Regions from separate parts of the Homo sapiens genome. Here regions 1, 2 and 4 are each linked to region 3. The links come from fine-mapping of genetic effects on gene expression. A gene starts in region 3. Each other region holds a variant in brackets. All regions are shown on one strand. Distances are between the middles of the regions. Region 1 overlaps EFEMP1 (EGF containing fibulin extracellular matrix protein 1). Region 2 holds the start of MIR216B (microRNA 216b). Region 3 holds the start of EFEMP1 (EGF containing fibulin extracellular matrix protein 1). Region 4 overlaps EFEMP1 (EGF containing fibulin extracellular matrix protein 1).

The links. PIP is the estimated chance that this variant, and not a neighbour inherited with it, causes the effect.
Region 1: its variant is the best candidate, but not a certain one, in a credible set for the expression of EFEMP1 in cerebral cortex (GTEx, PIP 0.79).
Region 2: its variant is the best candidate, but not a certain one, in a credible set for the expression of EFEMP1 in lung (TOPMed, PIP 0.52).
Region 4: its variant is the best candidate, but not a certain one, in a credible set for the expression of EFEMP1 in subcutaneous fat (GTEx, PIP 0.50).

Annotation. Positions count from the first base shown.
Region 1 is chr2:55,885,676-55,893,912 of GRCh38, reverse strand. All of the region lies in intron 5 of EFEMP1 (EGF containing fibulin extracellular matrix protein 1), which reads left to right. Among named protein-coding and RNA genes, the nearest start is that of EFEMP1, 34 kb to the left of the region's middle. The variant A/G (reference allele first, on the strand shown) is at 4,008.
Region 2 is chr2:55,997,896-56,006,132 of GRCh38, reverse strand. The region is part of intron 2 of MIR217HG (MIR217 host gene); the gene reads left to right. MIR216B (microRNA 216b) reads left to right here and starts at 5,338; the gene lies at 5,338-5,419. All of the region lies in intron 3 of LOC105374690 (a long non-coding RNA gene), which reads right to left. The variant G/A (reference allele first, on the strand shown) is at 3,884.
Region 3 is chr2:55,921,084-55,929,320 of GRCh38, reverse strand. EFEMP1 (EGF containing fibulin extracellular matrix protein 1) reads left to right here and starts at 5,539. Exons shown (of 12, transcript NM_001039348.3): 1 at 5,539-5,610; 2 at 6,382-6,422; 3 at 6,874-6,961. The coding sequence starts at 6,881. RefSeq lists an enhancer at 5,480-5,979.
Region 4 is chr2:55,876,484-55,884,720 of GRCh38, reverse strand. It overlaps EFEMP1 (EGF containing fibulin extracellular matrix protein 1), which reads left to right. Exons shown (of 12, transcript NM_001039348.3): 6 at 2,987-3,109; 7 at 6,856-6,975; 8 at 7,979-8,098. It overlaps LOC112268416 (a long non-coding RNA gene), which reads right to left. Exons shown (of 4, transcript XR_002959388.2): 4 at 7,036-7,104. Among named protein-coding and RNA genes, the nearest start is that of EFEMP1, 43 kb to the left of the region's middle. The variant G/A (reference allele first, on the strand shown) is at 4,928.

The sequences.
Region 1 (8,237 bases), 35 kb after region 3:
TATGCCAAAGGAGGGGAAGGTCATACCATAGATGCTCCTGTTGATTGGGTGTTAGTCATAAAGACCATATTGAAAACATGACACTAAGCAACAAAACAAAGGTAGGATATTTAATAATGTGAAAGTATATAGAAAATTACATTAAAAACCCCAACTTCCTGCAGTGTTCTTGCTTCCTTCCATCTGTATATAGCTGAAGTACCACCCTGATCCCACTACCAATTTAAGTCTTCACACTGTTAAGTATAATTTATTGAGCACTTACTGTGGACCAGGTACCTCCATTTTGAGTGTGTATTGTTTTAATTGTCCTCACAGTATCATTTTGAACTGAACATTCCCCGACTTCATAGATGTGGCAGTGAGATTTGGAAGAGTAGAAAAGTCAAATAACTTTCCCAGGACACATAACTAAAACGTGATGTTGCTTGGATTTGAACTGAGACCTATTTGACTCTAAAACCTGTGATCTTACCCACCCTTCTGTCTCAAGCATATTTCTGTCAGTGAGTTGTTTAAGAGAAAGAGTTATTCTGTGATTCTCAGACTTTCTAAAAAGATCAACAAGTCCTCCCCTGAACTCCTAATTCTTGGTATAATAAATTATATATAAACATTAATTCTTGGTATAATAAGGCTAGTAAAAAAAAGCTAGCATAAGCAACTACAGAAAGATACAATCTCAAATAAAATAACTTAGAACTTAAAAATACTAGCTGTTAGAGAATAGTATGATTCCTCTAATTCTGAAACTCATGAAAAGAGATTCGTAATTGAAGGTCACTGACAGGGTACCCCCTTACACCTATCTGGCAGCCTCACAGTCATCCACATTAACCACATATGTGCCTGAAGCCAAAGGTTTTCACTTAAAAGTTTCTATAAACAAATTATTACATTTCTAGGGGAAAAAATAATCCTAGGCTAATTTTAAAATTAACAATCTGAATTGCTCAATTTTTCCATTTTCTTTCAAAATGAAAACTTGGAATATGATAGACTCCGTGGATGTGCTCCATACAGTAACCATTTTAAGTATATATAACAGATCTAAGAACGTAGAGTTTGGTTTTTTTCATCCGTTTATTCATGCCAAGAAATTCTCTTTAAGATTGACTTAGTTTGGCATCAACCTTTAACACATCAACTGCATAACTGGCTTGGGTCTACCTGCCTTTGTACTCTGCAGACACACAAACCATGTATAGGGCATGTTTCTCCACCAGATTTTCTTTTTCAGAATTTGCACTGCCAAACAGACATTAAGCTACTCTAAATTCTTGACAAGTATGTAACTTTATAGGAACACAGTAGTGTATTTAAACATTGAAGAGAACTTTCTATTCATCCCACTCTTCTAACAGAGCCATTTAATCCTATCCAGAAAGATGAGTCCATTTTCAGACTCTCCTTTGATCCTACAGATTAGAGGGACAGAGAAGTCACCACTGAAAATTGAAAAAGGACGCAAGAAGAAATGGAGATCCATGACCATGGCCCCAAGAAAGCAAAAGCATGTTACTCAGGTTTCCCAAGATCCAAGTTAGAGAGGGGAGAAGAGATTAGAGCTAGAAAACAAATACTTTTAAAAACAGCATTTTGGAATTTATCAAAGTAGGCTTTAATGTCAGATTCATAAAAATGAAACAGATCTCAGAGAATGTATTTTCTGAGAAACTTATTTCTGTCCCCAATGGAAATGTAAAGTAAAATGCCCCAGACTCATTTTAAAGTCCAAAGACTATTTTATATGCTAGCTTTGAGAAGCCTTTAGAATTGCAACACTCACAGGGTCAGAAGTTTTTTTGAACAGATTTTCTTTTGTCCCTTATGGCCTTTAGGCACTCCTTGAGCTAATATTCAGGAGTTATTTGAATGCTGTTGCTTCACAACACTGAAAGTGTTTTAACATAGAGGGAGGAAAATCCCACAGCCTATGTCATCATAATTTATCAACAAATTAAGTCCAAGAATGCATGATAATTTATGGATAACTTGGAGGAAATGGTAACTATGGTATCAATTTGGAACAAAACCAGGAAGTCAGATCTCACTTGATTTAATGTTATCTGAAGGATTTGGGCACAAGTTTAACATTTTGATCACGGAATAATCTTATGCCTTAACATGATGAAGACTGAGTCTTCCTTCCTGAAAAATCCTTAATACAGGACAAGAAATAATGAGTCTAAAATTTCGTAACTGTTTTCCTGCTCAAGGAAGAGAGAAGGAATAAATAACCACTTACAATGAAACCTTTTCTTGCTACACTTCATCATGAGGCAAGTATTTCAGATGTTGGGAGATAGATTGTAAAGGTATAAAAGTTAACTTCACAGCTATACAAAGCTATACGTATGTGCACCATGTGTCAAATGAGAGAAAGTATAGATATTCAATGTTGTTGAATCCTCACAATTTTCTATATTAGAGTGGATGCAGCATCTGTTTTTCAATTTTTAATCATCAACATTGTCAAGCTTAGAGAAAAGTTGACTGTACAGTACAATTAACAAGGAACACCCACCGTTCAGATTCAAAAATTATTAAAACTCTGTCATATTTGCATGTAGCATGTTAACACTGTTTTTAAACACAGATGACTAGTCAAATCCCCCACCTCCTGCTGGGATCCACATTGAATCGTTTGTGTATTTCCAGTGATAGGAAACTCATTATCTCCTAATACATCAAAACAAATAATAACCACATTTTCTCTTACACTGAGCGAAAATCTGCCTTTCTTGCATTTCTAGCCATTTATTCTATTTCTGCTTTTTGGAAATACATGGTCAAGATCTTTTCCTCTTCCCAGGGAGAAGAGCAGAAAAAATAACTATTGAGTACTAGGGTTAGCACCTGACTGACAAAATAATCTGTACAACAACCCCCAGTGACACAAATTTACCTATATAACAAACCTGCACATGTACCCCCAAACCTAAAATAAAAGTTAAAATAAAAAGATCTTTTCCTCCTTCCCTAAGCTCCCTTTCATAACCCTGAAGATGATCTCAGATATAGATCTCATCTATGTTTTCTTCTCTTGTAAATTGAGTACAAAGAAAAAGATAAGGATGATATGAGGAGGTAGGGTAGGGCTATGGGCCTTCTTATGGGCTGGCATTTTTTTCCATAAATTTTGATCTGTAATATTTTCATTTTCATTCAGTTTGAGATTTCTCAAATTTCAATTTAGCTATCTTTAAACCATGGGTTGTTGTGAAGTATGTCTAATTTTCCAAAAGAAGGGCTTTTTCTAGTTTTGTTGTTGTTGTTGTTTCTATCTTATTTGCATTGTAGTTGGAGAACATAATCTGTATATTGCAAATTTTTGAAATTTATTTAGACTTACTTTAATGCCAGCATATAGCCATTTTCTTTTAATGTTCCCTCAGTATTTAAAAAGGCTATGTATTCTGTACTGTGCTCTATACATGTCAATTAGTTCAAAGGTTTTAATCACATTTTCTATTCATTTCTGAAAACATGTATTTATTCTTTCAATTACCAGGAGAAGTGTGTTAAAATCTTACTGTAACTGTGCTTGTCAATTTTTCCTTTTAGTTTCATTCATTTTTTTATTTGTCTATACTGAGCCTATATGATTAAGTGCATTTAAATTTAGAATTTCTACATATTCCTGGTAAACTGAAACTTTTATCATTATGTAGTATTTTTTTAATTCTCTAATAATCTTTTTTTTCCATAAAGTCAACCTCTTCTAATACTAATATTGCATAGCCAACTTTGTTTTGGTTAGTGTTTGCATAAATATTTTCCATCTTTTTTATTTTAATCTCTGTGTCCTTGTATTTAAATTATGTCTCTTGAAACAGTATATTTGGGTTTTGTTTTTTAATCAATTTGACAATTTTTGGTTTTTAGTGAGTGCATTTAGTCCATTTACATTTACTATAACCACTGATATGTTTAGGTTTAAAACTACCTACCATTCTATTTGCTTTTCATTTGTCCTGCACATTTTAGTTTCCTTTTGTTTTCTT[A/G]CCTTCTTCCTAAATTGATGGAGTATTTTGTATTATTCTATTTTCCCCTCTATTAGCTTTGTAGTTTTATTTTTTTTTTTTACCATTCCTTTATTGTTTTTCCTACAGATCATTTGAACATGCATCCATGACTTATCAAAATTTAAGATCAATTAGTACTTTTAACTCTTCCTGCGTGATTCAAGGACCTTAAAATATTTAAACTCTATTCCTCTTCCTGCCAAACTATATATGCTATTATTCTCATGTATTTTAATTCTAAATATTTTATAAATCCCAAAATACTTTACTATTATTGTTTTAGGCAGTCAGTACTTATTTAGATTTATCCACATCTTTATTCTTTTTATTGTGCTGGAATTTTGAATCAAAAAGAGAACAGAAAAAAGAATTTAGTGCAAATAAGGGCCCTGAGGCATATGGAGAAACATTGCGCAGAAAGATCATAAGTAAGATATAATGAAATGGGCAGGAAAATACACACAAGAAAGTAACATTCTCTGAAGGCAAGAGGCACAAAGGTATTCTTTATTGAAAAAGCTTTAGGCAGTTAATGAGTTGGAGAAGTATTGCCAAGTTACACTCACCAAATTTAGTAGTATGCCTCAATTTAGTGGGCACAAAAGCTGCTTATTGTTGAATGAACAACAAGCATAATGTAATTGGTTTCATACAATTAGGAGGTCAGCAAGCCATGCTTGTTATAATTGGCACTGCCATAGTCAGGGGCTTATGCGACCTCAAGTGATGATTTGCCTGAAGGAATAAGCCAGGAATGTGTGTGCTTTGGGCTCCAGAGACTTGACTAATCTGGCTGCAAGGCCTCAGGGAGGGAGGCCAAGAATCAAATCACAGTGCTCAGGCAGGGCTTGGTAGACTCAGTTGAATGTAGTCAGTCTCCATTCAGTTCATCACTCACCAGTGTTTGAGCCGGAGCCGGGGAAGTGGGAGATAGAGGAGAGGAGAGATCAAGTGGCCGGGAACCAGGAAAACACAATTGAAATGTCAGTGCAGAGGCATCCCATAATAGGGCGGGATCTTAATTCCTCCCAAGGCCATCCACTTTGAAGCAGGTCTCCAGCCTGTGTGGCATGGGCTTAAACCTTCACACAAAGGGTCTTTAATTTCTAGTACTGAGCCACTCTGGAGCAAAGACTGATGTTGCTGTTTGTTTCAAAATACAGGTTTACCTCCACAAGGTAGCAGACTGATGAATGGTTGTTAATATCCCAAATATCAGGGTTTTCTTTTCCCAAACATTTTCTAAATTAATAATTAAGTTTAAGAAGGCCTGTAATCCCAGCACTTTGGGAGGCCAAGGTGGGTGAATCACAAGGTCAGGCGTTTGAGACCAGCCTGGCCAACATAGTGAAACCCTGCCTCTACTAAAAATACAAAAAATTAGCCAGGCATGGTGGTGGGCGCCTGTAATCCCAGCTACTCAGGAGGCTGAGTCAGGAGAATCGCTGGAATCTGGGAGGTGGAGGTTTCAGTGAGCCAAGATTGCACCACTAAATGCTAGCCCAGGCAACAGTGCAAGACTCCATCTCAAAAAAAAAAAAAAAAAAAAAGTTTAAGAAGGAAAAAAAAAGAGTTTAGCTGGGTATGACATACTCACAAAGATGCCAGAAAATACTCCTAACAATTAACAATCATTTAACAGTAGACAATGTTGTTTCCTTGAGATTCTGAAAGCATAAGCTTCATGTTGCCAGTGGGCAAAAACAGCTGAAGAATGAGAAGTAAAGCCTTTGTTTCTTTGCTCTTCCTCTGTTTCAGCCTATGACCCATTGGTTCATCTGGTTTATGTGTAGTACAGATGAGTCACAGATTGGTCGTTCACATGCATTAGTTGGTTTTCTTCCCCATGTTCATGAACTGTATGCCTAACCTCATCCAATCATCTGGCAAATGAACACTGTTGTCCACAGAGGAAGCTACGTGAGGGGGGTCCATTTGCAATGCAAATCCGTCATCATTGCTAGAAAAGCAATTCGAAGTAGCATGATTTTTTTCCTATGAGAACAGCATATTGTAAAGTTCTGATAGAACACAATGCAATGCCAAGGGCTTCTAGGACACTTGATTTCGCCACTCTCTAAAACAAAGAAATGAACTATCAGGGAGGCTGATAATTTGTTGATTTTGGTGATATTTTTGTTTATCATTTAAAGCACACCAAATTATTAACAATCTGTTTTGCCAGAACTGATAAGAATCTAGAACTATAAATCTACTGCTGGCCATCGATTAAGACAGTTCTCTCTTGTTACTTAATATTAGTATTTATTTTCTCCACTAGAACTGCTTAGCTTGAGTGAATTCTAGCTGATAATTTCAGAAGGGTGAAAAGCTAACTAGAACTGGGCATTTGGCCCAGATAAATCTGATTCCAGTACTATGAAAGAAACAGCAAGGGAACTAGAAAGTCTTTGACAAAAAAATGTTGATAATTGGCTAAAAACTGGGGAGGGAAACAGAAAACTTGGAGAGCTATGAATGTTATTCTAAGTAGAAGAAAGACGCAAGGGAGGAATCAAGGTGCTGTGACATTAACAACCCTATCTTTAAGGCTAAAAAAAATTAAAAACACCTATAAATTCACTTAAAACTACTCTCCAGAACTCATAGGAAATAAGTCTTCCTCAGGACCTAAATTGCAGAAACAAAATGGAAATCTGGTGTTTGAATCTCTGCTCTGTGTGACCCTGGGCAAGTTCCCTCAACTGAGTCTACATTTCAGTGACATCCTTTTTTTTCTTCATCTGTAAACTGTGGATGAAGTAACTACCTCTTCCACAGGGCTATTAGGATTAAATAAGAAGCTTTGTAATTCTGCCTTCCCAATCAAATAATAGATCTTTTTATATTGCTAAGAATTTACCTATTTTTATACCAATTAATTTTAGAATGTTACCAAGTTTGTATATGAATCTGTATAAAATATTATATACTTTTTTCTAAATCAGATTTCAATCTACATAATTTATTATATTAATTACTCAGGTTATCATTATCAATAGCAAATACTGGATGAGTAAAACAGTAGTAAACTTCAGTGCCCTCAGGTCTTGCTGAAGTAATTCTTACCTTCCAGGATTATATTGAAAAACAAAATACTCCAAATACCTCTAAGACCTTCACTCAGTGAGTCCCTTTTATTTAAAAAGTTTCAGAGAGTAAGTAAAAAGAGTACTTTGGTAGGAACTAGTTTATCACCCTGTCTCTAGAAAGGATTGGGAGCAATCATTTTGAGCAGGTGGGTATCTAAATCATTAAGAATGTTGGGAGGAAGGAGGCCAATGGTAAAGAAGCTCTTCCTTCTAACAAACATGAATCCTTTACCTTGACCATTTTTCTACTTTACTCCATTTATGAGATTAAATCAGTTTGATTGAGGAAGCTAGGTATAATAAGGTTTTAAATCCACACAGATCAAGAAGTATCACCAACTTGAATTTAACCACTATCTTTTCTTTAACCACAAGAGTTCACAGGATAGCACCATTAAATAATATTTGCAAAGCATGCACAGTGCCCCACACAGAACTAGTAAAGATACGGTTATTTTACTCCAGGGGTTTACAGTCTGGAAACAAAAAAAGTATATTGTGAAGAATCTGAATACTTTTAAAAATCTGTGTGTTATTGTTGAGGATAGACTCTCTATTTCAGAGATGGAGAAACAAAGAGAAAAAATTGATACCATGACCCTAGATCACACAGGGAGTGACAGATTCAAAATAATTTCAGTCTTCTTTGTCCTATTACTAGTGCATTCTCATCACTAGTCTACAGTGGCTTATTCAAAAGTAGTTCTAAATTATTTCTTAAACCAAAAGCAGCACAAATTATAAAAGTCTAAATGGTACTCAACACCATTCAAGGTGCAGATAATTTTTGCCCATGAAAACATGCTAAAGGGACTCCATGTTGTGGTAAGTTATCAAATTATGGAAAGAACATTGCAGAGATTAAAATGTTGCATAAGAGAGAGAAAGCAGCATGAGTCAGGGGTTTGGGAAATATGAGTCAGACTGAAGGGAAGGAGCCAAAAACATAGAGAATGAGGGCCTAAGCAGGGACTTAATGGACACCACAGAGATGTGGACAAAGTTGTCTCCATTAACTTTGAGAGAAAATCAAATGTGCGGTTCCCTAGACGTGGGGGTCGGTGTGATAAAGAGGCTAGAAGAGCTGAGCAAAGATTAGCCTGTGTTATTTAAAGCA
Region 2 (8,237 bases), 77 kb before region 3:
AATAGAAACATCCAACAAAACCAAATGCTGGTTCTCTGAAAAGATAATAAAAGTGATAAATCTCTAGCCAGGTTAAATAAGAAAAAAAGATAAGACTAATATCTCAATGATAAGCACTAATATCAGAAATGAAGTAGAGGACATCATACATATACCACGGGCATTAAAAGGATAATAAAGGAATATTACGGACAACTCTATGCCCACAGATTTGATAATCTGGATTAAATGGACCAATTCCTAGACACAGCTTGCCAAAAGTCACACAAACAGAAATGGACAATGTGAATGGCCTATATCTATTAGTTAAATTAGATCAATAATTAATAACCTTCCAACACAGAAAGCACAAGCCCCAGATAAGCTTGCCCATGAATTCTACCAAACATTTAAAGAACAAATTATATTAGTTTTCTACAGTCTCTTTTAGAAAATAAAAACAGAGGGAATACTTCCTCACTCATTCCATGAGGCCAGCATTACCCTAATACCAAAGTCAGACAAAGGCTTTACAAAAAAAGACTTCAGACCAATGCCTCTCATGAAAAAGGATGCAGAAATCCTCTACAAAATATTAGCAAGTCAAATTCAACAATGTATAAAAAGAATTATACACCATGACTAAATGTGATTTATCCCAGGTATGCGAGGATGGTTCAACATTTGAAAATTAATTAATGTAATCTAGCGTATCAGAAAACTAAAGAAGAAAAATCACATTATCATATCAATGGATGCAGAAAAAGTATTTGACAAAAGCAATGCCTATTTATGGTAAAAAAAAAAAAAAGAATCTCAGCAAACTAGGAATAGAAAGGAACTTCCTCAACTTATAAAGAATATCTACCAAAAAAACTACAGCAAACATCATACTTAATGGTGAGAAACTCAAAGCTTTCCCACTAAGATCAAGAATAAGACAAGAATGTCTCTTCTCTCCACTGATTTTTCACACCATACTGGCAGTTACAGCTAATGCAATAGAACAAGAAAAGAAAATAGAAAATATACAGATTGGGAAAGAAGAAATAAAACTGTCTTTGTTTGCAAATGACATGACCATATATATAGAAAGCCCAAAATAATCAACAAAAAAACTCCGGGAAATAAGCAATTATAGCACGGTTGCAAGATATAAGGTTAATATATAAAAGTCAATCACTTTCCTATATACCAGCAATGAACAATGAAATTTGAAATTAACAACACATTGCCATTTATATTAACACCCCAAAAATGAAATACTTAACTATAAATCTAACAAAAGATGTACAAGATCTATATGAAAAACTACAAAACCCTGATGAAAGATATGGAGGAAGAACTAAATAAATAGAGAGATAGCCCATGTTCCTGAGTAAGAAAACTATATTGTCAAGATGTCAGTTCTTCTTAATTTGAACTATAGATTCAAAGAAGTCCCAATCAAAATCCCAGAAAGTGATTTTGTGTATATTGACAAACCAATTCTAATGTTTATGTGTAGAGGTAAAAGATCCAGAATACCAACTCATTATTCAAGGAGAATAAAATTGGAGGACTGACACAACCTGACTTCAAGACTTACTGTATCACTACGGCAGTCAAGCCAGTGTAGTACTGATGAAAGAATAGGTGAATAGATTAATGGAACATAATAGAAGGCCTAGATATAGACCCACACAAGCATGGTTAGCTGATCTTTGACAAAGGAGCAAAGGCAATACAATGGAGCAAAGAGTCTTTTCAAGAAATAGTGCTGGAGCAACTGGACATCCACATGCAAAAAATAATAATAATAATCTCGACACAAATCTTATATCCTTCACAAAAGTTACTCATAGTGGTTCATAGGCCTAAATACAAAATGCAAAACTATAAAACTCCTGGAAGATAACACAAGAGAAAACTTAGATGACCTTCGGCATGACATTGACTTTTTAGATATAACCCCAAAGGCACGACCTATGAAAGAAATAATTGATAAGGTGGGCTTCATTAAAATGTAAAACTTCTGCTCTGCAAAAGATTATGTTAAGAGATAGTGAGTAGATAAGCCACAGACTGGGAGAAAATATTTGCAAAAAAAAATCTGATAAAGAATTGTTATCTAAAATACACAAAGAACACTTAAAACTGAACAATAATAAAATGAACCCAATCTAAAAATGGGCAATATACCTGAATAGACATATCACCAAAGAAGATATAATAAGTAGCATATGAAAGATTTTTGATATTGTATGTCATTAGGGAACTGAAAATTAAAATGAGGTACCACTAAACACCTAAGAGAGTGGCTAAAATCCAGAACACTGACAGCACCAAATGCTGATGAGGATGTGGAACAACAGGAACTCTCAGTCATTGCTGAAGGGAATGTAAAATGGTACAGCCACTTTGGAAGACCGTTCATCAGTTTCTTTAAAAACTAAACATACTTTTACCTTACAATCCAGCAATCACGCTCCTAGGTATTTACCCAAAGGAGCTGAAAACTTACGTCCTCACAAAAACCTGCACATGGATGTTTACAGCAGCTTAATTCATAATTGCCAACACTTGGAAGAAACCAAAATGTCTTTCAGTAGGTGAATGGATAAATAAACTGTGATACATCCAGACAAAGGAATATTATTCAGCACTAAAAAGAAATGAGCCAGCAAGCCATGAAAAGACATGGAGGAAATGTAAATGTATATTACCAAGTTAAGAAGTCAATCTGGAAAGGCTAAATGCTGTATGATTCCAACAATATGATATTCAGGAGAAGGCAAAAACTATGGAAACAGTAAAAACCTCAGTGGGTGGCATGAGTTAGAGGGGAGGAAGAGATGAATAGGCAGAGGATTTTTAGGGCACTGAAGCTATTCTGCATGATACTGCAGTGGTAGATACATATCATTATACATTTGTCAAAACACAGAGAACACCAGGAATGAACTCTAATGTAAACTGGATTTGAGGGTGGTAATGATGTGTCAATGTAGGTTCATCTATCATAACAAACGTTATCACTATGGTGGGGGATGTCGTTAGCAGGGGAGATTGTACATGGATGGGGATAGGGTATATAGGAACTCTCTATACTTTCCACTCAATTTTGCGTGAATCTAAAACTGCCCTAAAAAATAAAGTTTACTAATTTTTTTCTTAAAAAAGAGACTTCTCCAGTCCACATCTTGTAAGTTCAGGTTCAGGAGGTAGGTCTTGGTTGGGGCTTGGAAATCTGTCTTCTCCATAAATCCAAAATGTTTCTGATATACAGCCAGCGTTGAGAATCACTGGGTAGATCTTGACCTCTGATCTTTTAAGATGTAACTGTACTGTTCAATTTTTTTTTCAGGTCTTTACTGTCTGCTAGAAATAATCTTATAAATTCATCTGTACTAATGTTGGTGGCAGATAATGCTTAGATATTAAAAATTTGCATTTATAGAAGGGTCTTTTTCTACCTAAGTACTTAAACTAACAAGAGCCCCATATTATAGGCTGGCAGCCTCTAAACAGCCTACTCATAGAGGCAACTAAAATGAGGATTCTGTCTCAAAGCTCTGTTCCATCCATGCCTTCCCATGGAGCAAAGGAACAAACAAGATATCAACAATTGGAGAAATGGCAACTATAATTCCATCATTCACAACTTCAGTTTTCCTTCAAGAGAACAAGTGACACTGTTAATCAGGCCCTGCAAGCACAAATAAACAAAAATAATAATTTGAGAAAAGAAAATGAATGATGGCCTAAGAAGTCTAGTGTTTCTTCCACAACCAAGGTATAGTAGTCTCATCCTTTGGAGCTTTAGATGAACAGACTGAGGATCATAGAGTTTCTAACACAGCCCCTTCTTTCTATGCAACCCAGAATGATGTAGTTCTCTATTTTTAAAAGCAGCAAAAAGGAT[G/A]GAAGTGTTCTCCCTTGAAGCCCAGATGTTTTCTATCTTTCTAAGCTGCAATTATTTCAACACATTATTTTAGCTACACTTACATCAGATCAGAGCCACCTGTTATATCCTCTGCACACTTATGAGAGATTTACTGTTAAGTTTCTATTTATGGTTTATTTAGGAAAGTCAGAATGCAATTGAGAGGACGCTTTTAAAGTCATCTTGAGGTCCAAGGATGTGTGTATAGCAGATTAACAGATAATCAAGACACTGTGTTGTGTAGTGTAAACATAATCAACCCTAATTTTGTGATTCATTATTACATAAATTTGGACGTAACCCGGACTAAAAAACTCATCATCTGAAATTCAACTACATGCCTGAAAAACATAATATAACATTGTTATACTTTAAGGAAGTTATTAATCTACTCCTAAACCAAGTATTACAAAAAATTGTATTATAATGCATTTTATTGTAGGAGGATTCTTTATTACCAAGATTTACATATTTAAATATTCTCTCATTTTATCTTGTCTGAAATTAAATGTCACTGTAATATCAATAAAATATGTGAATATATATATATATATTTCCTTTCTAATGGTAAACAAGTATTTGCAAAAAACATCCTAAGTAATAGCCAATCATTAATAAATGTTTACTGAGCACCTCCTATAGGCCAGGAATTATTCCATGTGCTGGGATATAGAAGAGAACAAAATATATGAAGTCCCTGTTCTAGGAAAATGTTGGAATAAATTTATAGTTGACATTGACCCAAAACCCGACATTGTAGTGTTAATAATATCACAATATTCACAAGTTAGATTTTTGAGCTCTAAAGTAAATATTGCATATCATGCATTATTCCAGCACTTTAAAGATTAGCAGCAGGTGATGGTATTATCATAAGACCATTATTAGGCAGAAGAAAGATGGAGAGAATAAAAGTAAAAAGCACATCTCCTCATTCTACTCATCTAATCTTGTTATTACTTAGGCATAACTAAATTACAAAAGACTAAGAAACTCAACTGCAAAGTCTAACGTTAGATAAAATTGCTTGAAATGCAAGGATATTTACCTGGATTGACCATAAGGCTTTTGGTGTGACTAACACACTGGTAAAATAAGCACATATGAAACAAACAGCATAATTTGAGAAAAAAAAATGAATGATGGCATAAGAAGCCTCGTCTTTCTTCCATGACCAAGGTATACTAGTCTCATCCACTGGTTGTGGCTTGGGAAACTTCACTTTTCATCTTTTCCTTCATTCTCTATGGAGATGTGTGGCAAAATTAGAGAGTATCCATTCTCATTTATGCACCTATCTGAATCCCAGCTATAACTCCTACTTCCCATCAATTTTAATCTTGAATAAATATAGTTTTAAAATTTAGCAAGACCAGAAAGATCACTGTAGAATGACGACAACTTTTTTCTATCTTAAGTACAACTTCAAAGTGGCAGACTGGAAAATCTCTGCAGGCAAATGTGATGTCACTGAGGAAATCACACACTTACCCGTAGAGATTCTACAGTCTGACATCTTCAAGCATCGAACCATTTCATCAACTATGCTTTTGTTATAAGCAGTTCTTTGGCCTGGAATAAATCTAGCATGGCCAAAAAGCCAAGCTATAGCCCACTTACTGAACTTTAACTTCTTCTAAACCAAGGTGACTACATGCCTCGTGATGGTTGAATCCCACTAAATTAAATTTTAAAATAAGAAGGTTGTTTGTAACATGGCTTAAAGCAGTTGTTGTCAAAGTTTGATTCCCAGACTAGCATCAGCAGCGTCACCTAGGAACCTGTTAGAAATGCAAATTCTTGCACCCCACTAGAGGCCTCCTGAATCAGAAACTCAGAATGGGCCCTGCAATCTGTGTTTCAACAAGCTTTCCAGGTAATTCCGATTCATGCTCAAGTTTGAGAACCACTGGCTTAGAGAGAGCAAAAGATTATAACTGGAACACTAAAATAATCAGACAAAATAATATGTATTCATAAAAATATTGTCTAGAATACATTTCTAAAGTAGTGGTCTTAATAAGTATAAGCATTAATAATAATGGAAAGAAACATTTTCATTTAACTCTTACTTTGCCAATAGAATTGCTCAGATGTACTTATTTCCTTAGAAATAAGGAGTTAAGAAATCTTATTTAAGAGGAGAAAACGTTTTCATGTTTGGGAGGATTAAAAGGGTACTGACATCATTCAAGTCATGAGCCATAATTCTTATTAGATTTTATTGCTACATTCTTCGCACAGCTTTGGAAAGTTATTCCTAAGAGCACAAAATATGCACTTAGACTGCACACAGAGAAGGAAAATGCTCTCACAATGAAATTATTTTAGTCTGGCCCAGTAATATTTGAAAGACTCAAGATTTGTTCTCTCTGAAACATATCCTGTCAAAATAAGAGATGTTTGTTTAAATTTATAGTTTTCAACATCCTTTATAATTTTCCCTCCTAAGTTTAATTTGTCTGTAAGCAATCCAATTTCTATATACTAAAAAAATTATTTTCCCTTCTCCTCTAATATAATAAAAATGTCATGACTAAAAGGTAAAACAAAAAATAAAAAGTATTAAAAATTATTATTGAAATTGGTCTTCAATGACAATGAATAAAAGCCATAATTTGATTTTTATATATTTATAATAATGTTATGTATCTGTTAGTATCTGAAACATTGGTATGCCTGTTAATCAATAACTTCTGGTAGCATGTTAAAAATTCATCTTCAGTTTCATTCTTAGTGAATTCATTTGGATTATTTCTGGACCACACCAATTTCCCATGATGTGATGGAAAAAATTGTAACATTCAAAAATTGAATTAGATCACACACAAAATGTCAACTCACTCAGATTATAATAATAAGGTTTGGCTTGTTCATTGAAAAGTGGAGCCCAACTATGTCTAGAGTCTGTAAACTCAGTGCTGGAGATCAACAAGATGTTTTAGACACTTCACCACTTCAGGTGACCTGAAAGAAATACATTTCCTTAGATGAGGATAAGAAGGCTCTCCAAATATCAGGTTTCTTTGCTTTCATTGGATTTAATTCAACTCAATATTGATGCAATTGCTAATCAGAAGCTCCAACTAACAGTCTAAAATGCCTTTGATAGTAACAAAAGAAAAAAATTATTAACCATATATGCAATTTGTTACACAAAATATTTCAAAACATGAGGTTTCATTAAAGGAAACAATAAAAACATTGCTAGGAATTTAGCATCCTCCCAGGCAGTAGGAGTGTTTTAAGTATTTGATAACAACGACCAATAGTCACTATTGCATGAAGCACTCTACACATATTATTTAACTTAGTTTTCTCACAAACCCAGTGAAGAAGGTATTATTGGCACTCCTATTTTATAGTCCTTTTTTTCTCCTAACAAAGAAATTGAAGTTCAAAAAGACATAAATTGGAAGGAAATAAATTACCTAAATGTGCATAATTCTACATCTCAGACAAAATAGCACAGAGGAACAAGCATGGAACTACAAGTCAGGAAACTTAGGTTTTATGTTGTTTGTTTTTGTTTTTTCAAATTTTTATTTTGAAAAATGTATAGACTTACAAGCAGTTAAAAAATAATAATACAGGGGTTCTATGTACCTTCACTCAATTTCCCCCAACGGAACATCTTACATAACTATAGTAAAATATCTAAACCAGGAAATTGACATTTATACAACCCATAGATCTTATTCAGATTTCACCAGTGTACAAGCACTCATGTGTGTACATGTGTATAGTTCTGTGCAACTTGCCACATGTAGATTTGTGTAACAACTGCCATAGTCAAGATACACAATTATTTCATCACCACAAATATCCCGGTGTTACCCCTCTCTAGTTACACCTATCTCTTTACCCTCTTGATGCCCCATCCCTAACTCCTGGCAACCACTAATCTGTTTACTATCTCTATAATTTTGTCATTTTTAGAATGTTTATAAATTTAATCATATAGTAGGTAACCTTTTGAGATTGAATTTTTTTACTCAGCTTAATTCTTTTGACATCCATCCAAGCTGTTGCATGTATCAATAGTTTGTTCCTTTTTACTGTTGAGTAGTATTTCATGATATGGATGCAGCATAGTTTGTTTAATGATTCACCCATTGAAGGACACTTAGTTTGTGTCTGTGTCTTGGTATTACAAACAAAACTACTACAAACAATATAGTCTAAGATTATTGTGTGAGCATAAATTTTCATTTTTCTGGGATAAATGTCAAGAGATGTGATTGTTGGGTCATATGATAAATGCATGTTTACTTTTTGATTGTTATTACTTTTTTAAAAAATTATTTTAGATTCAGCGGTACATGTCCAGGTT
Region 3 (8,237 bases):
ACTTGTTTCAGTAATATAAAGCATATCAGAAATCCAAATGTGTATTCATCATGGGAATATTTTCATGGATAATGTAAATTCTGCTATTCAAAAATACTGAATTTTTATGCATCAATAAGAAAGCAGTCCAAGAAAATAAATAATTTAATCAACATTATTCTTGCAAGAGTCCATTATAGGGCTATCAGTAGTGAATGATCCATTTTTATCAATTCAGTAAGAATACTAGTGTTTTTAAATGAATTCTTTCTGTAAGAAGGAGAGGGTTTTTTCCATCAATTCTGGTTCCAGCCTTGGCTTCTCCTTCAGCAGTTTCCTAGGAGAATATACTTTCACAAATCAAGTGGACCCAAATGTTGCCTGGTTTGGATACATGGCCAGAAACTGTGGGCTAATTCTGTGATTCATATCTTGGTCTCTAGCATGCCAGGGATGCCCACTGTGGGTCCCCGTTGAACACAGTTACTCTACACTTTGATTAAGCACTCTTAAGACTCAGCCACACTGATAGTACATGTTTGATTAAGACACACATTCCAAAGGATACAGAGACATAGATCATAGTGCTCAGTGTGTGATCATCAACATCTGTGAATCTCTTCTAAAATTATGAGTTTGTCACCACATACATCTTCAAATCTTCCTTTTTTTTTTTTGAAACAGTCTTGCTCCGTCACCCAGGCTGGAGTGCAGTGGCGTGATCTTGGCTCACTGCAACCTCCTGAGTAGCTGGAATTACAGGCGCGCACCACCATGCCCAGCTAATTTTTGTATTTTTAGTAGAGAAGGGGTTTTGCTGTGTTGACCAGGCTGGTTTTGAACTCCTGGCCTTAAGTGAATCACCTGCCTCAGCCTCCCAAAATGCTGGGATTACAAGTGTGAACCACCGTGCCCAGCCCAAATCTTTAAAATCTCAGATTCCTCTGAGCTCAGAGCAATTTTAGGAAGGTGAATTTACTGCAATTTCCACTTGCATTCTGCTAAATCCATGCATCCAGTTTGAATCCATAAAGTTGGACTCCATTAAATAAATCATCCAGCAGGGTGCAGTGGCTCCCGCCTGTAATCCCAGCACTTTGGGATGCCGAGGCAGGTGGATCACAAGGTCAGGAGATCGAGACCATCCTGCCCAACATGGTGAAATCCTGTCTCCACTAAAAATACAAAAATTAGCCAGGTGTGGTGGTGTGCGCCTGTATTCCCAGCTACTCAGGAGGCTGAGGCAGAAGAATTGCTTGAGCCCAGGAGGCGGAGGTTGCACTGAGCCAAGATAGTGCCACTGCACTCCAGCCTGGGTGACAGAGGGAGACTCCATTTCAAAAAAAAAAAAAAAAAATTATCAAAATTTAAAATGTTTGCTCTCAAGAGACAGCATTAACAAATTGGAAAGACAAGACAAAGACTAGAAAGAATGTTCGAAAAATGTAAATCTGAAGAGGACTTGCAGGAAGACTATTTTTAAAAACTCTTACAACTAATAAGACCAAAAAATAAAGAAATGAACACAAATTTGAAATAAAATATATTGATGGACAATAAGCATACGAAAAGCAAAATTCAACATCACTGGACATCAGAGAAATGTAAAATAAAACCACAGTGAAATACCACTTACACACCCACCAGAATGGCTAACATTGTAAATTACTGACAATACCAGAAGTTGGCAAGGATTTCAGGCAAATTGAATCTCACATATTGCTGGTAAGAACATAAAATAACACACTCACTTTATAAAACAGTTTGACACTTTCTTATACTGTTAAACATACCCCTACCATATGACAGCAATTTCACTCCTAAGCGTTTATCTAAAAGAAAACATATCCCAGCAAAGACTTAGAAGTGAATGTCCGTAACAGATTTATTCATAAACAATCCAAGTATCTATTAAGATGTAAACAAACAAATCAGGGTATATACATACAATGGAATACTACTCAGCAATAAAAAGGAATGTGTTTCTCATACACCTAATAACAAGGATGCATCTCAAGCAACATGCTGAGTGAAGGAAGTCAGACCCGAAAGAGTATTTACTCTATGATTTCATTCATATGAACTCCCACTGCAAAAAGGCTGCAGGAGAACAAGGTTGTAAACAAGGAGACCAATTAGGAGGATGTTGCAATAATACAGTTGGAAAATGGTGGTGGCTTAGACCAGAGTGGTTGCAAAAGAGGTGATGAGAAGTGGTTCCATTCTGGATATATCATGAAGGTGAAGCCAACAGAATTTCCTGAAGGATAGAATGCAGGATATCTCAGAAAAAGAGAAATCAAGGATGACTCCATGGTCCTGAATCTGAGCAAATAGAAAGATGAAACTGCTTTAACTGAGATGGTGAAGGTGGGTGGAGTAGGTTGGGGGATGATAACAGCAGTTGTGTTCAGTTTGAAACATCCATTAGATGTCCAAATGAAGATAGCAAGTTGGCAGCTGGATATATAGGAACAGTTCCAGGCTGGAGATATAAATTTGAGAGTTTTCACCCCATTTTTCTGGAAAAGTGGCTGGGAACAGGTAGAAAGAGTTTAAGAGAAACAGGAAAAACCATGTGCACAGATCTTCTTACTGTACAAAAAGTAAAGATCCATTTAAAAAAAATCTGGAGGTCATTAATGACTTGGGGGAAAACACTAGAATTTTGATAGTAAAAATATTTGATACAATTACCAAAACTCTGTATACTCAAGTAAGGTTTAGGGAGGGTTGTACACCTCCCCTCTGATCTTGTCCAATACTGTGTGGCTTGCTACCAAACTGGCAATGTCTAGGTAACCCACACTGGATACCCCAGAGATAAAGAGAGCAGCTTCCACCTGATAACCTCCCTCTCCTGCAGTCGCTACCACCCTCCCACCTTGAGTCAGCAGGAAAGGAAAGGAGCTTTTCCTCTCCTCCTGAGCTCTGCCTCCTGCTCAAGGACAGAGTCAAAGTTTTAACCCCTTCAGTTTGTAAGTTTTCTCATTCATGAAATTGTATTTGGCCATTTGCTTCTTAGAAGACAGCTGCCTTGGAAGCAAGCTATTAGTATGACTTTAGAGTTGGAGCCTTCAGAGGTAACTGCAATTTGTGTGGTATGATTTGATAAAAACAGAAAAAAAGATTTTTCTCTCCAGATTCCTGAAATTCCACTATGAAAGGTGAAAGTGAAATGCCCAACTTTGAATGAGCAGTATTGGAGATTTCACTAAGTCAATAAGTGAAGAAAAGAGAAGCTATAGATGAAAAAAGAAACCCATAAAAAGGGAGACTTTTTATTATATATTGACAAATTATAGTTGTATATATTAATAGGGTACAAGGTGTTATGATTTTTTAATACAATGTGTAATAATTAAACCAAGCTAATTAATATATCCATCACCTCAAATATTTGACATTTTTTGTGATGAGAACATTTGAAATTTACTCTCTTAGTGATAATGAAATATACAGTACTCAATTATCAGCTTTATTCACGACACCGTGCAATTGAACTTTAAAAAAATCAAACTTTTCCTCTCTTTTTTTTTTAGATGGAGTCTCACTCTGTCACTCAGAGGGATGATCTCAGCTCACTGCAACCTCTGCCTTCCGGGGTTCAAGCGATCATCCTGCCTCAGCCTCCCGAGTAGCTGGGATTACAGGCACGTGTCTAATTTTTGTATTTTTAGTAGAGATGGGGTTTCTCCATGTTGGCCAGGCTGGTCTTGAACTCCTGACCTCAGGTGATCTGCCCACCTTGGCTGCCCAAAGTGCTGGGATTACAGGCATGAGCCACTGCACCCAACCCTTATTCATCCTATCTAATTGAGGCTTACACTCTTTGACTGTTATCTCTCCATTCCCTGCAACCCTAGCCTCTGGTAACCACCATTCTACTCTCTGCTTCTATGAGTTCAATTGTTTTAAGTTACTTTCAGATACTTGAGAACATGTGGTATTTGTGTTTCTACATTTGGCTTATTTCACTGTGCATAATGTTTTCCACTTCCATCCATGGTGTCACAAATGACAGAATTTCTTTTTTAAGGCTAAATAGTATTCCACACATACACACAGACACATAAAATGGAATACTATTCTCTTTTAAATTTTGTATGCCTAATAATTCATGGTTAAAGGACAAGATAATAACTATTTTTGAGTATCCCGCTGTGGAGACACGATCTCCTTTGATCCTTGCAGCAATGTGTAAGGTAAGTGGCATCATCTTCCTTCTATTAATGGTAGAACTGAAGATCAAAGAGAGTGTCTAACTTGCTTAGGGCTACATAGCCAAGTGGTGAAGCTAAACTCAGTCTAGGCTTACTTGATAGTACACTAACATTAAATGTCTAGGAGTAAATATCTAAAACAAACTGTAAGTCTTCTCTATTTACCATACAAATTATTCAAGTGAACTGCCATTTTTGCCTGGCTTGAAAGATACTTTTCAGAAGAATGGGCTCATATACACATGCACGCGCGCACACACACACACACAATGGAATACTATTTAGCCTTAAAAACGCATATATATCTAAAATATATGTGTGTACATATTTTATATATATATGTGTTTATATATATAATATATATTATATTTGTATACACACACACATATATGCCACATTTTCTTTATCCATTTATCCCTTGATGGACACTTAGGTTGATTCCATATCTTGGCAATTGTGAATAGTGCTGCAATAAACATGAAAGTACAGACGTCTCTTCAACACACTGATTTCAAATCTTCCCAGTAAATACCCAGAAATGAGATTGCTGGATCATATGATAATTCTACTTTCAGTTTTTTGAGAAACCTCCATACAATTTTCCATCATGTTTGTACTAATTTACATTCCACCAACAGCATACAAGCATTCCCTTTTCTCCATTCTTGCCAACACTTGTTATCATAAAGGGAGGTTTGAGAGACCATAAAACAAACCCCACCTCACAATTTTGTTAGTGCAAGTTCTATTTGGCCTATTCCCAACACTAAGCACACAGTAGGTGGCAAATATTTGTTGAATGGATGAATTCTCATTTTTCTCCATTTGTGGAAGCAGACACCTCCTCAAAAAAAAAAAAAAATCCGAAAGAAAAGGTAAAGGAAACAGTTCTATGAATGGGGGTTAATTTACTCTCCTAGCATTCACTTATTGGGAAAAAAAGTAACAGCAGTTTCTAGAACCCTCTGGTCTCTGAGGGAGATGCTGTGTTCCCCTCCTCAGAGAAGAAGAAAACGCACTAGAGAGTGGGAGCATCCCCAAGGCTGAAGCGCATCCAGGACATCACATGTCAACGTGTCCTCTCTGGCGTGGGGTCCCCGCGAGTCTGGGAAACGAGGAGCTGGCAAGGGAGGGCAAGCGGGGGCGGCAAAGAGGGCCCCTGGAGCAGGGGGCGCGGACCTCGCTGCGCTGCGCGCTCTACCGCCGGGCTCGCAACGCTGGGCTCAGCGCTCGCGCCTCCCTCAGCTCTCTCCTCCGCCCCCCTTCGCCCTCCCCCTTTCCCTCCCTTTCTCCTCCTCCTCCTGCCGCCGCGGCCGCTGCCGGACTTCGCCAGATCAGACCCACGGGGCTGCCCTCCCCTGCGCACTCCCCTCGCTGCCCGGGCCCGGAGCGCAGCGCGGCCGCACAGGTAGGAGCCCCCAACGGGGGGTCGCCCCGAGCGAGCCCAGTACTCACTGGGCCGCGCGCGGGAGAGTGAGGTGGGGTGAGCTGAGGGGTGTTGAGTACCCGAGAACTGCCCTGGACTGTGCAGGGTGTCTCGGGCAGAGAGGGAGGTGGAGGTGTGCAGCCTCGGAATGCGATCTGTCAGCAAGTGCGAGTACTCGGGTGACATCTGTTGGGATGGGCATGTGTGTGCGCGCCGACAACCAGCCGGCAGGGCTTTGCCCATAAACGTGGTTTTGAAAGTTTAGGGGACCAGTGTGCGAGATTTAAGCCGCACCTGGATTCCATAGGAGCTGGTTAGAAGCTGGGACGCTGAGCAGCTCCAGGGGACCGCCGCGTTAGCTTGCTGTTAAGAAAGGGGACCTCATCTCCCTGCCGGGCCAGGCCGCCCGCCCGAAACTGGTACCTTGGGCTGCGGTGCGATCCCTGGTTCCGGTCCTAGGCAGCCTGAAACCGAAGGTAGCGTGTCGGGGACCCAGACTGATAAGACAAAAGAGAATCAGTCGCTTTGGGCTGCCCCTCCACACAACCTGGGACTTTTAAACAAAGCTGTGCGCAGAGAAAGGCGTGGAAATGCCACTTTGAGAGTTTGTGCTGGGGGATGTGAGAAGCTCTGAGACATGTGAGAAGGTCTAGTATTCTACTAGAACTGGAAGATTGCTCTCCGAGTTTTGTTTTGTTATTTTGTTTAAAAAATAAAAAGCTTGAGGCCAAGGCAATTCATATTGGCTCACAGGTATTTTTGCTGTGCTGTGCAAGGAACTCTGCTAGCTCAAGGTGAGTATACTGGGAAAGCCTTAACGTTCTAGAGAACAGAGTTTTGCAGCCCCACCTCCATCCCCCGGGGTGTGGGACTGGGGGGCAGGAAATGCACCGTCCCCTTTGAAATGGATTACTGTTTTTTCCTTTCGACCCCCTCTTTCTGCAGCCTGCTTTGTAGGTGCAGTATAAAATGCACGCTGAATGTCTTTTGTATGTAAACAGCGTAGCAGGATGGAGTAACGTGAAATGCAATTCTACAGCAGTTTTTACGTCTTTGCTGCCTCGTTCGTTGGCTACCGAGAAGGTTCAGGAGGGGGAGGGGAGATGAGAAAGCAGATTGGAAGTTGAGTATGGTGGAGCCTCAGCCTCTCCCACCCTCCTTTCCTCGCTTGTGCTCACTGCTAAAGTTTTGTTACTTTCCCCGCAGCAGATACTAAACATTAGTTTGTCCTGTATTTTCTTTGAGATTCACAATGTTGAAAGCCCTTTTCCTAACTATGCTGACTCTGGCGCTGGTCAAGTCACAGGACACCGAAGAAACCATCACGTACACGGTAAGGGGTGATGGAATTTGAAATAAGTACGGTTCAGCGGGATTCTGTGACAAAAAAAGACTTTACACACCCCTGCCAGTGTATTTGGGCTATACTCTGCTGAGGGTGATAAATTAAACAACACTTCATTCATGCTTCATATCTAAGATTCGTTGTAAATTGCCCCCTTGATCCTTTCAAAAGTTCATTGGGCTCACCACCTAAGATAGGAACCAACATGTAATCATTTGTGCAGGGCTAAAAATGGGATCCGTTCAAAAACTAAAACCAAAGAAAGTTACATGTTTCCAAAACATTCAACAAATTAATGGGTGTAAGGAACTGGAAAACCTGGACTCCTACCACATGCAGATAAAACCAATACGTGCAGAATAAGACTCAAGTCAAGTAAGAACGTTAAACACCATAAAGACACATGGCCTTCTTTGTGTACATGACATGCATTCTCAAGTAAGTGGCCTTTATTGAATTTATAAAGGCTATATATTCATTCTTTTTGTATAACTTGATAATTCTAATAAATAAAGGCAGACAACAGTTTATGTGTTACCAGGATGCATATTGGCTAAAGTGGTTTTAAAACGTAATGTGTGCAACTCCGTTTTGCATTTTCTAATTAGCGTCTCTGATATTTCCAAGTAATATTTGATTAGTTAGTTGCATAGGTGTAACCAATGTTTAATAAAATATTAAAAAGATCACCTGACCCCTCCCACTGCTACAAATAGTTGTGGTGAGAACAGAGAAGGACAGTACTGACTTCACTTCTGGTGAGTTTGTTTGCACCTCTGTTCTGTGTTTTCTTGTCTTTAATCAGTGTTAGGCAAATGACATTTGTCCTGGATTGGAATATGAAAAGCACATTTTTCTACTGCTCCCAGTTTAAAATTAAGTAATCCTACTCGAAAGAATGTGAAAAATTTTTGAAAAGAAAACTCTTAAAAATGAACTAATGTCAATTACTGATAATAAACATTATCTCACTTTTTGGTACCACATTATCCCTAGAATGTTAGTATTCATCTGGCAAATGTTCCTTTCTGTTGTTCAGATCCACTATAAATAAAATAGCTTAATACAAATATTTTGTTAACTTCATGTTAAATGCAGTTGCTTCCTCTGCTGAAGATAAATTAAGCAAGAAAAATGAAGGCATGTGCTGTTTATCTTAAAATGAAAATGTTTTGTTATTCAGACTAAACTTACTGCCTTCTCAGGGAGCTAAAATTAAATTCACTACCCACTTTTATAATCATCTCATAAAAGATTTTACTTC
Region 4 (8,237 bases), 45 kb after region 3:
CTCCCCATAGTAATTTGTCCTAGATTATCAGGAAAATCATGGCTGACCTGAGTAGTTTCCCTTATAAATAAAGCATTGCTTTTGCTAATGCAGATATTCTCCCATACAAATGTAGGAAACAGATTTTTCTTACACACCATGGAGATACCTACAAAAGGCTGTGTTTGCACTATGGGAAGTCAGGAGCAAGTAGAGGGCAGTGGACTGTCATCAACACTCCTGGGAGAGCCACCTTTTCCAGAGCATCTGCACAGGGATGGGTATTCTGCTTTGAGTTTCTGACATCATTGTCCATTTTAGTAAATTTTGTATCATAGTGAGCTTTCTGGTATTTATGACAAATGGAAATGCATAGAAGTAGAAAAGCCAAACATAACGGAATTTAACAATGTATAATAATTTTATATGACTTTGCATAGATGTGTAAATAAGTAATTCCAGGATCTCAAAGTATAATTTTCAAAATAATATTGTGTTATTTAAATAAACTAATAAATTGACATTAACGTAATTGAAAATAGGTCAAAGAAATTCAGTCTGTTTATAGCCTTTAGCATTAGATAAACCACCAACAGCAAAGGAGAGGATAAATATTCTAAACCACAGCCAGAGAAGCCATAAATGGAAATGTAGTTAGTAGCTGCCTCCTGGTCACAGAGGTCACTTTTTTGACAATTTTATGAGTCCCAGTAAGTAAAATGTGTAATCACCAGTCAGTCCTAGGTGAGGCAAGTCTTGTTGCAGCTTTGTTTGGGTGTTGGTGGAGAAAGGGAAGGAAAGTAGTGGCAGTGAGCACAGTGGTATTTGTTTTTTGTTGTTGTTTGTTTTTATTAATTTAACTCACCTAATATTTTTATTAAATAACCCACTCAGAAGGTAAACAGACCTCATTCTTAAGAAGGAGTAGCACAGGTTTTTGTGTTTAAAATCTACTTAATGATACATTAATTCCACTGGAAATGTTAGCCTATTTATCAGACACTAAGAAATGAGCAACAAGAAAGTAGGAAGGAAGTCATAGGGCATCAGTTGTAGGAATGCAGCGGGGTGGAGGCAGTTTGCAGATAGATGTCAAAAAGAAAAGCCTCAGTCACTGCTGAGGCCTCCCTTAGAAAATGCAGCAGCCAGCCCAGGGCCTTGATCTGCTGCCAGAGGAAACTTGCCACATCTGAATCTAACATTGCCGTATCTCTCAGGACTGTTATCACTGCAAATGCTGGCAAATGTTCTTGACATAAAACAATAGATACTCTGCTGTCATTTCTGCATTAACGAGTCATAAAGCTCTGAAGAAACCCCAGTAAAAAGGTTTTCATCAAGTGCATCTGAGAAAATAATAAAAGACACAAAAAACAGCAGATAATTTCAAAGCAGGATTGTTGCACCATCGCATAGTACCTAAAAAGGACAGTTTGTAATCACTGACTTGAAAATAATACTAGTAGTAATTATAATAAATTTCAAAACAAAACAAAATAACAAAAACCTTAGCCAAAACTTTAAAACCAAGTTCAAAGAATTACGTAAGTGGATGCTTTATAGATTATTATCCAATAAATAGCCATACATCACTCAAGTATTTTTCATCTCCCCTCCCTCTTTCTTATCGAAAGAATCTCTCTTATCATTTCCACACCCAGCTAAGTGAAGCTGATTTCTGAGGACAACCCTTTTACAATCTCAACTTCATATATTATTATACTGCATAGTGTAAATGCGCAGTCCTCCTTGAAAATACAGAAAAGTGAAAGGCAAACCAACCTCAGGGTCTACTCTCAGAGATTCTTAGAGGGAAGACAGAAATTGGGTGAATTTTTTATTATTGATTCTTTCCCTACTTTTTCTTCCAACATACTACCATGAGTCTGCCACAGTGATGATCTAAGACCTCTGAAATCTGCCTCAGGGGTCTTAAATCATCACTGTGGTAGACCCAGGGTAGTATTTTGGTTTTTATACAAAAATTGTCATCTAGGAATCACAAGTTTTATGATATTGTTAATGAAGCTTAGAGTGGTTGTTGAAGAATGATGAAATTATATGATCCTTTTTTGTGTACTACTTAACTTCATGATATAGGAGAGCCGAATGAATATAAAAGTGATACAGATAAGGCAAAATTAGATTTTACTTATAAATTACTGTAAATATGAATGTACACACACAAATTTATATCACCTTTTGATCTGAAAGAAATTTCTTATAACTAGTTCATTATGCTATCACTGAGCATTTTTTACTTTTCTAGAACTGTAACCTGCATACTCATTAAGGCACATTTAGTAAATTATTCCAAGAAGTACACTGCTTTGAGAAAATATGGATTTTTAAACTACACAGGCTAGAGGAATATGATCAAATTGAATCCTTTGCATTCTGAAATTTGCAATGAAAGATTTATACATACATGTTGCCCTGCTGTTTGCAAAAACAAACAGCTACAGGGAACGTATAATATTAAAGGTTGATTACACCCAGTTATTGGTTAGATTTTTAGAAATTTGTCAATGGAAATTATCTCAAATACAATATATTGGATGGAAAAGCAAGTATCATACAATCTATTAAAATTTTTAACATACAAAACAATACCATATGTTCTAATGGATGCATCCCTGTCTAACAAAAGTACAAAAACATCTCAGGGAAGGATTCATTCCTACCGAGACAGTGGTAGCTGATGGGTCAAGGGATGAGGATGGTGTGAGGCTTTAGCTGTATCTGAAATGTTTCTTAACAAAACAAAATGAGCCAAGACCAACATGACAAAATGTTAGCATTTGTTAAATCTGAGCAGTACTCACTGGTATTTGCAAAATTATTTTCTGAACACTTGAAATAATTTATAATTTTAAACATTTCCAATGCAAGAACATTATAAACTTTTAAGAATAAAGTAAAAATTTAGCTTAAGAAGTGGCAAAATGGAGGAAATATCAACATCTTCACAACTGACAATTCTTTCTGTGTTGCATGTCTCTGACAGACATAGACGAGTGCACTGCAGGGACGCACAACTGTAGAGCAGACCAAGTGTGCATCAATTTACGGGGATCCTTTGCATGTCAGTGCCCTCCTGGATATCAGAAGCGAGGGGAGCAGTGCGTAGGTAAGTACCACAGTGCAGTGAGCACGGTCCTGTCTTGAGTACCTTAACTGTTTCAACCTCAAGCATTCCAATCAAAGCATTCATGTTTCTTTGGAGAGTGGTAGCCAATAATTCCTTATTTTTTTATAGACTACCAATCCATTTTCCACAATAACAAGAAACAACCTTAAAGGTTGAGCTATTCTGGATAACAAAGTGTTGGTTAAATGTTAGACGAAGCAAGAGCAGAAATTTGGGGTATGAATGGGACAATAAAAACAACCACAAAAAAATTTAAATTTGCTGTTTTGGGGGCCATCGCGCTAACACACTGGTACTGTGGGCTTCATTCACCATTCACTGCTGCAGAGCATAGCATAGCACAGCACATAGAGCAAATGGTGGAGTTGCATTCCAAGCACCAACCCCAGCTCGCTTTGAGACCTTGAGCAAGTTACTTAAATCCTGTGTCTCACTATGTTCACTTGTACTGTGGAGATGATACTAGGCCCTACCTCCAGAGCTCATGTAGGGAATGCTTAGAATAGTGCCTGTCCCTGTGCAGTAAAGCTGTTTGCTATCGTTGTATTCTGAGTCAACAGATGGGTATTAAAGGCTCTTTATACTGCAAGCCTTTGTAGGGTACCATGAGTACAAAGCCAAGTTCAGCACGTGCCTCTGCTGGAGGGCCTAAGAGCGTGAGCTCCCTGACAGCAAGACCAGGTCATCTTGTGTCACTGTGGTCTCCCCAGTCCCTGAAGTGTGCCCACCATGTGATGGAGGCTCTATGCGTGTGTTTTGAGTGAATGGAAGATCAAAGTATGAGGAAGCCAACTGGCAGATAGTGAAGTAAAATACAGTACTCTGGGCTCAATCATGAGGCCCAGCACTAGGCATGAAACTCTGACTGTCCATTTATTTACATACCCCTTCTTACCACAGATCAGTGAAAAAGCCTTATTTCCTCTTAGGAACAGAGGGTGAGGATGTGGGGACAGACAACCAGCGTCAGTTTTCGCCTGAGAATGTGAGCTGTTGATGTTCACATGTCAACACTGAGTTCCATGTGGGCCCCAGCCCAGTTCTGTCTGCCATAGGGCTGTGCCTAGATGCTGGGGTTAGTGCCCAGCCTCTGAGGAAGGCCCAGGGTTTGCTATAAATGAAGCTGTGATTTAAAAGAAGAGTGTGTAGAAAACTCCAGAGATAACAAAGTTTGGCCATTGTATTAGACAGGAAAATAAATATTTGAGGGCATAAAAAGTACAGAAAAAAGAACTAATCCAACTTAGTGTGGGGTGAATCAAAGATAATGGAACATACGGTCACAGCCCTTTTAATGTGGTAGGAGGAAATATTCCTAAACTCAGATCTAATCATGTGTCTTCCCCTCCTGCTTCCCTCACTGAGAGAATCAAGTCTACATTCCTCGACAGAGCATGAAAGGTCTTGCTCAATCTGATCATTGTCCAGTTCTGTTGCATAAACACCTCTCCCCCACCACAAAATATTACACCCCAGCTTTATTCCACCAGTTCCCCACACACGTCACACAGTGTTACTTACACTTTGGTGCCTCTATACAAGCTCTTTACACAACAAAAACATTCCCTCCTGGCAAATTCTTATTTCACTGTCAAATCCTAGCTTAGGATCACTTCCTCTGGGAAGCCTGCTATGATTTACCCAAATATAATTAGTTGCTCCTCCCCTGTGCCAGTACTTCTCAAATTATGATGAAGGATACTTTTTTGTAAATTTCCAATCTACGGCAGACCAATACTTCTGTAAAGCACAATAAAAATAATGTTGCACTAATGTCAAATTGCTATTTCTAAACAT[G/A]TACTCTCAGTTTCTGTATTTATTCATTGCAGACTGGTCCAAATAGCCCATGAACCAGCAGCAGTCAGCAGGCCACACTTCAAGTAGCATGGTGCTCCCTGTGTCCCATACACTCCTTTCTATTGTTGATCTTCTCATTCCATGGAATAATTTGTTTCATGCCTGTCTTTCATACCAGACAAGGCAGAACACATGTATACTGATTATCATTATAAACTTGGGGTGCCAAACACAGTACCAGCAAATAAGAATGGTTCAATGAATGTTTATTAGTTAAGAAGACATGCGTCACATATTCACCAAATAGTTATTGAGGGCTTACTGTGTAACAAGCATTGTTCTAGGAACTGGGATAATAGTAAACAAATTTTACAAATTCATAGCCCTCGTGGAGCTATTAGAAAGTATAATACCATTCATACAAATTAGCTATCAATACTAGCACCTGATGATAGTACTGAGGACTAGGAAGCACTATGCTAAAATTGCTCTTAATTAGTGTGAAGTTTCGATTTATTCGAATAATGTTTATTGAACACCTACTACTATGCCAGGCCCTATTCCAGATCTAACAATGAACAGACAAAAAACCCTCTACCTCCACCTCAAGGGGAGAATGTCATGCACTATAGTGAGGGAACACACAAGAAGCAAATAAACACATAACACAATGTCGAGTACTGTTAAGGACTACAAAGAAGTCTAAAGCAAGGTAAGGGAATAGATAGGGCAGAAGAACCTATTTGATATTGGTGGGAAAGGTGGCCACCCTGAGGAGGTGACATTTGAATGGACACCTGAACCAAAGTAAGGGGAAAAGCCATGTGAATATCTTCTTACTATTTATTTCAGTATTCAAGTTAAATCAAATATATCTTGCAGCTTATTAGCTCCCATTTATGTTTACTTGCTTTGTGCCAGTAACTTTGCCTACATTATGTCTTGTAACCCTCCCAATAATTCTACTCACAGAAGAGGAAATGCAAGCTCGAGAAGTTAAGACCAAGCTAGTAATTGCCAGAACAAAGATTCAGACTCAGGTTATCCTGAGGCCACTTGAGCACACTACTTAATTTTAGTTATTAAAGTACCAAAAGAGCCCAGCATAAAGGTTTGTTTTGTTTTGTTTTGTTTTACCACAAGGCAGTGTCACTATATAGCATTACATTGTATATGCATAATGGTTGTTTTAAATTACACATGCCATGTTGAAGTTGTCACAAAGTGTAGAATCATGAATTAATGAAATTTTATTATGCTTCTAAGATGTTAGTCCTACTTAGCAAGTTCTTAGTTGAGCATTTTATAGTTGAAAATATTTATATGAGAAGGACACAGGCTGGAACACTTCATCAAAGTGTCAAAAGAGCACTCTCAAGAGGTAACTTATTTAGCATCCAATTCTTCCACAGTGTTCTTTTATTTGATACACAAAAACGTCCTAAGATACACATGGCAAGCCTTGCTATCCACATCTTATAGAAGAAAAACCAAGATACTGAAGGCGTAAGTGACTTAGCCAAGGTCACCAGTTGAGCACAGCCCACAACTCTTTCTTCTTTGTTTTGTGCTGCACCATGCACTTCAGTAGTTCTTTTTTACTTCTGTAATTATATATAAGCTTTTAGCTCCCCAAACTGACATCTTATATATATATGCAATAGTCTCAATTATTTTGTTTTCTTTAAATCTCAATCCACCCACCAAGTTTATTTACCACTGAATGGCATGAACATTGAGTCTTTGTTCTTAACTTCTTAACTCAGAATACAAAGTATATTTAAAATACATATACCCTAATTTTAACAAAATAGGAAATTATTACTTTTAAAAAGAGATTTTCTCTACATAGGTTTTCTAGATAATGCTTTTCAGAGAATGCTAATTCAATAATTTGGTTCTCTTTGTGTGTGTGCCTGATAACCTAGACATAGATGAATGTACCATCCCTCCATATTGCCACCAAAGATGCGTGAATACACCAGGCTCATTTTATTGCCAGTGCAGTCCTGGGTTTCAATTGGCAGCAAACAACTATACCTGCGTAGGTAAGCCTTTTGAGAACTTGCTGATTTCTGTCTTCACAAAAGGAAACCCCATGCCATGTTGCAGTATTTCCAGTTTTCTATGTTCTTGAGTAAATAGTTTCCATCGACTTCCCTTCAGCAATCATAAAGCTTAAAAGATAATAACCAATCTGTGTCTTAAAACACATCAAGATGTGAACAGAAAACTTTTTAACTTTGGTTTTAGTTCTCCTCTGTGGATAGATCAACAAATTTAAAACTACAAATCAATTGATATACATACACCAGTCAATCAGCAGTGTGTGATATAATGCTGAAAGTGCCAAAGGGGTTACTACAAGTTCAAGTATATAAACTTTCCACTGAAAGTGCATCTGATTTTTACATGCCTCTTCTCCCCTTTCAGAATGCAATGTCACGGCACACAATTAAAAGATTGGCATGACATGGAAAAAATCTAGTGTAGGAAAAATGCCTTTTCACAATATTTTCAGTGCTTTAGAGCATTGCAAAACTCCGTATGGGTCTCAAAGGCTTATGTTATAATTGTAATGGAATTTAACAGAACCCATTTAAAAAGTAATAAATAGCACAGATAAATCTTCAGTACAGCATGCTGAGAGACCATATCAGTATAAGTGTCTTATATCAATTATTTATAGAATTGGCATTTTGTATCTGAACAACAAAAGAAAATCGATACCGGAGTGTATATTTATTAGAAGCATTAAATTCCTTTGGAAAGATTCATCAAACATCAAACTAACTGTCATTCCTAGAAAAAATATTTCGGTATTTCCAAAAGAAGTATATGACAGACGTTTGTAGTTGTTCCAACAAATATGAAACCTAAATGGATGTTCTCCAGTGAGCTTCTGCAGGGCAAATAATTCAGCTAGGGAATTACTCACTTGTCAGCAGATGACGTAGGTACAAAAGAGTAAGGATATGTTTAAAGTCTATATATATATGTGTGTGTATATATATACATATACATATATATATATATAAAACTTTTTTTCAGATATAAATGAATGTGATGCCAGCAATCAATGTGCTCAGCAGTGCTACAACATTCTTGGTTCATTCATCTGTCAGTGCAATCAAGGATATGAGCTAAGCAGTGACAGGCTCAACTGTGAAGGTAAAACTCTTCCCAGATAGTATGGAATAAAGTCCAATTCCTGTGACTGCTGTTGTTTTATCTGATTATGTACCCATTTATGAAAACAAACGCTTACCCATGGGAATTCTGTTCTAAAATCCAGTTAATGTAGTTCAGT